Linked DNA regions of Homo sapiens. The protein of the gene in region 2 interacts with the protein of the main gene of each other region in a pairwise test. Each region holds a gene or a part of one and is shown on either strand. Other genes may lie near its edges. The genes, in order: EPB41L1 and USP40.

The links.
Region 1: the proteins of USP40 (region 2) and EPB41L1 interact in a two-hybrid assay, tested with the Homo sapiens proteins (one study listed by BioGRID).

What each region holds. Positions count from the first base shown.
Region 1 is NC_000020.11:36,230,520-36,233,299, reverse strand, and holds the end of EPB41L1 (band 4.1-like protein 1), read right to left. Parts: 3' UTR 501-2,780; downstream 1-500. UniProt on the Homo sapiens protein: May function to confer stability and plasticity to neuronal membrane via multiple interactions, including the spectrin-actin-based cytoskeleton, integral membrane channels and membrane-associated guanylate kinases.
Region 2 is NC_000002.12:233,556,510-233,560,534, forward strand, and holds part of USP40 (ubiquitin carboxyl-terminal hydrolase 40), read right to left. Parts: intron 3,416-4,025; coding exon 3,302-3,415; intron 511-3,301; coding exon 346-510; intron 1-345. UniProt on the Homo sapiens protein: May be catalytically inactive.

The DNA.
Region 1 (2,780 bases), on a different chromosome or scaffold from region 2:
CACGTCCTGGGGCCTGTATGCTTACTGTTCCCTCTCCTAGAATGTGCACCAAAGTTCCTCGCCTTTGTTGATTGATCCTTCTTTTCATTCAGCTCACAGATCGCCTCCTCAGGGAGGCCTTACCTGGCCACTGTATTTAAAGTGGTCTCCTTCAGTGACCCTCCTTCCCTTCTCCCGGTGTATTTCCTTCCTAGTGCTGAGTGCTCTGTAACGGACTGTTTGCCTGTGTTGGCATCTGTTTCCTCCACTAGCCTGTGGGTTCATGAAGGGCAGGGACTTTTGTCTTGTTTGTGTTGTGCCTGGAGAGTCACCCAAGGCCTGGACCACCTTGAGTTCCAAATATTTGTTGCATAAACATGTTCTAAGTTGGGATGTCTCCACTTCAGTTTTAGCCCCTCCCACAGTGCCAACTTGTACCAGTGGCCAAAGTCAGAGAGAGACAGTGAGAGAGAGAGAGAGAGAGAGAGAGAGAGAGAGAGAGAGGAGAGGTGCCAAGGAAGTATGGTTCAGCATCAAACACATTTATTTCACTTATATTGAGTATACAAGAACAGAGAGCACACGCATACAGCACGGAGCACTGAGGTGGGGGAGCATGGGGACGAGAAAGGAGAGAAGGGTGTGAGTAAAAAGGAACAGGACAGCATCGCAATTGGTTGTTAAGGTGCTTTTGAAAAAAAAAATTATTTCGAGTGATGTTGCTCATGCAGTTTCAGGCCAGTCTTGGAATGTGCTTGCAGGATTCAAAAACTGAAACAGGTCCTGGTACTTCCTGTACCCTCAGATGGAAAAGATCCAGAGAAAACAAAATAAGAGAAAATGAAGACCCATGAGATAGCAAAGTAGAAAAAGACCCTGGAGAGCATCTGGTTCTTTCTGCTTATTTTGCAAGTCGGGAAACTGAGGCCCAAGAGGGGGAATGGGGATAGCCTGATGTCACATGGTGAGTTAGGAGCTGAGCCAGGATGGTCACCCAGAACTCCTAACCGCCCTCAGGGACTTTTTCCACTATGCTACATGGCCTCCTGGGTGGAGAGGTGGCACAGAGAGGATGAGAAACAAAAAAGAGAAAAGGAAAAGTAGGTTGAAGACAGACAAGACAAACGTCTCTATTCTCTACAAAGAGAAGGATGGGGAGGAAACAGTGCCCTAGATTCTAGCTTTGCAGGTCCCCTCCTCCCTCGTGGCACTGCCTGCATCTCCGTAGAAGGGAGGTCACAGCATCCGCGGGATGGTGATTTCCCCAAACCCTGGTGGCCCATAAACTCCACAAGCTAAGCCTGGTCACTTCACCCCTGCCCCAAAGCCAGGTGCAAAATCCACAACAAGGATCCTCCCTCTGAGGTGTGTTCAGTGTGCTCAGGACTCCTGGTTCCTGCAAAGATGAGTTCCTAGACCGAAGTGGCCCAGAGAGGATGGAGCCACCACTCCAGCTCTTGACCCAGAAAGAGGGGGAACTCTCAAGAAGGGCAGGAAGAAGGTTCTGTGGCTTTTCCACCAGGATTGTAGAAAGAACCTGGTGTATGGAAAGTGTGCTGCTACACTCAGGGGGAGTTGGAGTGGACCCACCGGCCTGCACCAGGGGGAATGCCACTGATTCTGCTGCCCCGCTGAACTTCCCATTTGCCCAGAGAAGCAAATGCTATTCTGATTTCCTGCCCTGCCTCAGGCCAGCACCAGCTAAGCAGCTAAGGTGTATGTCATCACTGACAAGCCAAAGGGACGCATCTAACCTGGGCCGCCTGGGGGCATCCCTGGGCTATGCCCCGATAGGTTGGCGAGAGTGGGGAGATGCTCTCAGATGGGCCAGCCATGGTTGAAATATAAAGCTGGCTCAGGTGGCTCCTCAGGTTCCGCCCTCCCCTCCCACCTTCTTCAGCCTGAGAATAGTCCCTGGCACAAGCAGGTAATCAGTAAATACTTGTGGAATGAATTTATTAACTGGTTTAGAAGGAGGACTGGGAGGTAAAATGGAACTGAGAAATTCGCAGTGCAGTGGGACATTTTCCCTCATCAAGGGGCACTTTCTGAGCTCAGAGAAGTAGCTTGTGGCAGACAAGCCTGAGGAAGCCCACGTGTGGCAGAGAGCAATGCCAAGCTTGTGATGGGAGCTTCTTGAAGGGTTCCTGTGGTCTTGGGGTAATTTCTGGGCACAAGCTCAGAGTTCAGCTGTTGACTGAGAGGGAGGTCTCCAAGCCAAGGTCTTATGCAGAGCTGGAGCCTATGAGCAACATCACCCGTCAGTCTCAGCTTTGTCCTGGGACAGGGGAGGGCTTTGCAAATGCAGTTTTGATCTTTCAGGGTCTGCCCCATGAAGCCTCCTTACCATGGCTACTTTGGCCTGAGAAGAAGAAATGATTCAGAACAAGGAAGAGAGTAGAGGAAAAGGCTTAGCTGGGAATTTTTAGACAGTCAGGTTAAAGCCACCATCTTCTACAATGGCTGAGAGCACCACCTCCCTTTGGATATGGAGTTGGTTATTACAATGGGGTCAGGGAAGGGCAGAATGTGGCAAAAAAAAAAAAAAGAGAGAAAGAGAGAGAAGACTGAAAACCAAGGCAAGCCCCGTAGGGAGATAAGGACTAAGCCAGGGACCTCTACTGTGGCAACTTCAGCAGCAGAGTCCCAGACTGGGACCCAGTACCTGAGCACAGACCAGGCCCTGACTGTTACTACCAGGGGGGCAGGGAGAAGGTGTCTTGAACTGGCATTTTGGGGACGACATCTGTGTTGCTTCTTTCTTGCCAAACCCACACCTCTCCATTAGGGCCCCCCACCCC
Region 2 (4,025 bases):
TTATTACCTCCCTAATTAACTTTCTTTACAATATTCCAACCATGATGACACTGGCTTCTCACATGAGGCCACAGTCTTCTATTTGTAAATATCCCCCAAATCTATTTTCCAAATATTAGGGTACTGAATAAAAGATTAAGTTTCAAGATATTTGCTTCTTTCAATCTACATGGAGAAATCTGGATTATAGGCTCATGATTTAGGTGTAGTTAGAAGAAAAAAAAACTCAATAAATTACTTTTAGTAATAAACACTTTAATCCTTGTGTGGTATATATCATACATTTAATTACATGGATTATAATTTACAACATAACTTATTACTAAAATACTCTGGCATATTTACCTGCCTCTCGCTAACGTTCTTACATTCTTTACAAACAATCTGGTTAACAATGGTTCCATGGTACAGACGATAGATGAGGTCATGACCGGAGGTCCCAACTAAAGAAGTTTCCAAAGCGCTGAAGAGGATTCGATTCAGTTCCTGCACATCATGTTGCCTCATTTCCTACAAAACAGGTAACTTTTAGATGTAATTCCGGGCTTCAGATTTTTTAAAACATTAAAAAAACAAACATTAGTCAATAAAAACTCAAGATTTATCAAGCAATCTGAAGATCAGATATAAGAATGACTCAGCAAAACAAGCTGAGCTGGTTAAGAGATTACCACCTATTTTTATTTATACTAAAAAATGAAAATATGAACAGGCTGGGTTCAGTGTGTACATGTAACTCAATTCCTTTGACACCCAGAATGTGCATTTATTCTTGTGGGAAACCACACACATGGCCATGCCACAGAAAGCAGAGAGGGATATACCAGGCACAGACCAGTGTCTAAGAGCTGGCAGTGTCTGCACAGGAACACCTCACTGAGATCAGAGCACATGTGAATAGTCCGAATTATCAACAATAGAAAAGAACTAGAATGTACTGCTTTGAAGTAAAAACAACTAAAACAAGACTAACACAGTGTTACTGAGAAAAAAATCCTGATGGAACTTGCTTTAATCCATTATGAGTCACGCAGTTGTGTGTGAACTTGTGCTTAAGAAAAATTTATAACCAAACCAAGGGGCACACCAAGACTGAGAAGTGGAGAAGAGGAGGAAGAGCAGCTGGGGGGAGGGCCAGGAGAGTGAGGCCCCAGGAAGCAGGAGGAGCTGAGGCTTTAAGGAGGGTGGTGAGTGCTGCTGAGAGCTCCTTCTGCTGAGAACAGAGAAGTGTCTTCTGGACTTGGCACAGGGATGTCACTGTTGACTTCAACCAAAAAAGTAGAAAGGAAGGAGAGGAACAAATGGAGAGTTCAGAAGCAGAGGCAATAAGGGAAGACAATTTCAAAAATAAGTTTCAACCAAGAGCAATAGCTCATGCCTAAAATCTCAGCTACCTGGGAGGCCGAGGCAGCAGGATGCCTTGAACCCAGGGCTGCAGTGAGCTATGATCATGCCATTGCACTCCAGGCTGGTGACAGTGAGACCTCATCTCAAAAAAAAAAAAAAAAAAAAAAAAGTTTTGTGTGAAGAGCAGCAGATAAAGTGGATGAAAGCTGGAGGACTTCTATCTTGCCTTTTAAAATACAAGACCCTCAAGGATGTAATTTATCTAATATCACTGGCTATGATGGGATAGAAAACTTGTGGAAGTTTTCAAGCTCTGTTCCTAAACAATCCTACACTTCGCAAAGGTACCACAGAGACCTTCTCCTACCACTGCAGGTCCAGTCCTAGAGGGTTTTCTGCAAGATCTTATTTAGACAAAAAACAAAAAAAATTTTCACAGCATTAAGAAGAAACCAGCAACTTAGTGAAGCTCATTATCAAAAACAAAGAAAAATCTATCAACCAATGACTAGATTAAAAAAAAAAAACAAAAAACATGTGGCATATCCATCTAATAGAATCTCATTTGGCAATAAAATGGAATGAAGTATCGACACATACTACAACATGAATGAACCCTGAGAACAGTACTTTAAGTGAAAGAAGACTGTTACGAGACCACCTATTGGATCACTCCATTTCTATGAAATGTCCAGAATAGGCAAATTCATAGAGACAGAAAGGAGGTCAGTGGTTGCCAGCGGCTGAGTTGAGGGGGATGGAAAGTTACTGCTAACGGGTATGGAGTTTCTTTTTGGGGTGGTAAAAATTTTCTAAAATTGATTGTAGTGATGGTTGAACAACTCTGTGAATATGCTAGAAAGCACCACTGAACTGTACCACTTAAAAGAGTGAATTCTGTGGCATGTAAATTACATCTCAATACAGTGTTTTTTTTGTTTGTTTGTTTTTGTTGTTAATCGGATTAACGCCAAATACCAGCCCTACACCAGAAATTTAACATACTTGTTTAGGGAATGTATTATACCCCATTTTGCTTGAAAGTCCATGCCTTACCTCCTTAATCACATAGTTAGTATCACCTAGTTAAGAAGTGTTCCTGGTTAGAAGACTACCCTTCAGAGTTTACCATTAAAGGCAATATAACAGTATTCCTATCGTTTGCTCTTTAACTTCTGTGACAGTTGCCTATACCTGTCTTTGCAGGATTACATCCATCTATTCCATATAAAAATGGTAGACTGGGATTTGTTTGGATTTGTATAGCTATAACAGCTCATCAATATGTGCAACAAGCACCTTTACTCATTGCTGACAAGTGTGTAGTGTTCGTATACAGTAGAATGCCTTTTAGAACTCAAACAGGAAAGTGAGAGAAAGCCCACATACAACAAGATTCATAAAGAAAATGGAGAAGGTCAGGAGAAAGTCAGGACAGGAATAAAAAGACCTGCCAAGAACCATTTCACTTTTTTGACTGAAGCAAACCTTCAAATCAGAACATGTGGATTCAAACACAAAGCACATAACAAACAAAGAATTTTTAAAAATTTACTTACAATGTAATTGATCCATTATTGTTGGTCAAAGACTAAAAAACTGATCAACAGTTTCCTATATAAATGGTAGGTAATCTCCATGTAATCGGTGTTGTATCTCAACTAGACTACATAAAGACTCTTAGGGTAGAAATTGTAAAAATCAGCTCTTGTACTTCTCCCCGTTTTTCCAATCTTCTCCCCAGCCCCAAATCACAGCCATTCATAAAATCCTGTATACAGCAAGTGTCTAAAAATATATATTTCTGGCTTGTAATTTTTTAATGTGAGAAGGAAACATTCAAACAATATGTTGAGACCCTAAGACAAAATTAAAGGAAGTTAGATAACATTAAACCAGCCTTATTCTTTCCTCTATTGCTGGTAACTCTTCCTTAAAGAGCTGATCCTCGTACCTCATTACTGGTCCACCCAAAGCTGTCAGTGAGGTCTGCTGTGGATGCAGCTTCCTGGTCTAAGAGCAGAAGCTGAGCAAACAAGCGCTGTAACTGTAAAGGGATGATTCGAACCTGAATGAGAAACAAACACATTTCTAAATGAATTCTTTAAGTGTTGACTAAGGCTTTTGAAAACAACTGCATACTAGCTTTTTTATATCTCCCAGTTCATTCAGGAGAAAGTTTATAAATATCCTATTATAAGGGAAAAACTAATTATGATTCAGTTCTTCTGTGAAAATTATAATGCAATCTAAAAAATAATAGTTATTTGGAGTTTTCTACCTTGATATGGTTCAGACAAACATTAAAACTCAAATAGGCCTTAATAAACCACTCAACTGATTACAGATTGACAGTAGTTTGAATCTCTTCTAATAGTCCATTATTTCTCTAAAATACCTCTGATACACACAATTTCCCCTCTGTAGAAATTTTCCAGGCACAATACTGTATCTCGCTCTGGAGTTCTCAGCACACCCTGCCTCACTTTCTCCTGGCTCCAAGTGAGTTCCTGCCTTACTTGATGTGGTGAGGGCTGGGGCAGACTGAGCAATGTTGCTCAGAGTCTGGTCTGTAGGCTAGACTTTAAGTATTTAAAGGAGAATAAGCATTTAGAAATTGTAATGGCAATTTGACATTCCCATGGCATTTTTATTATATACTAGAAAAGTGCTAATCT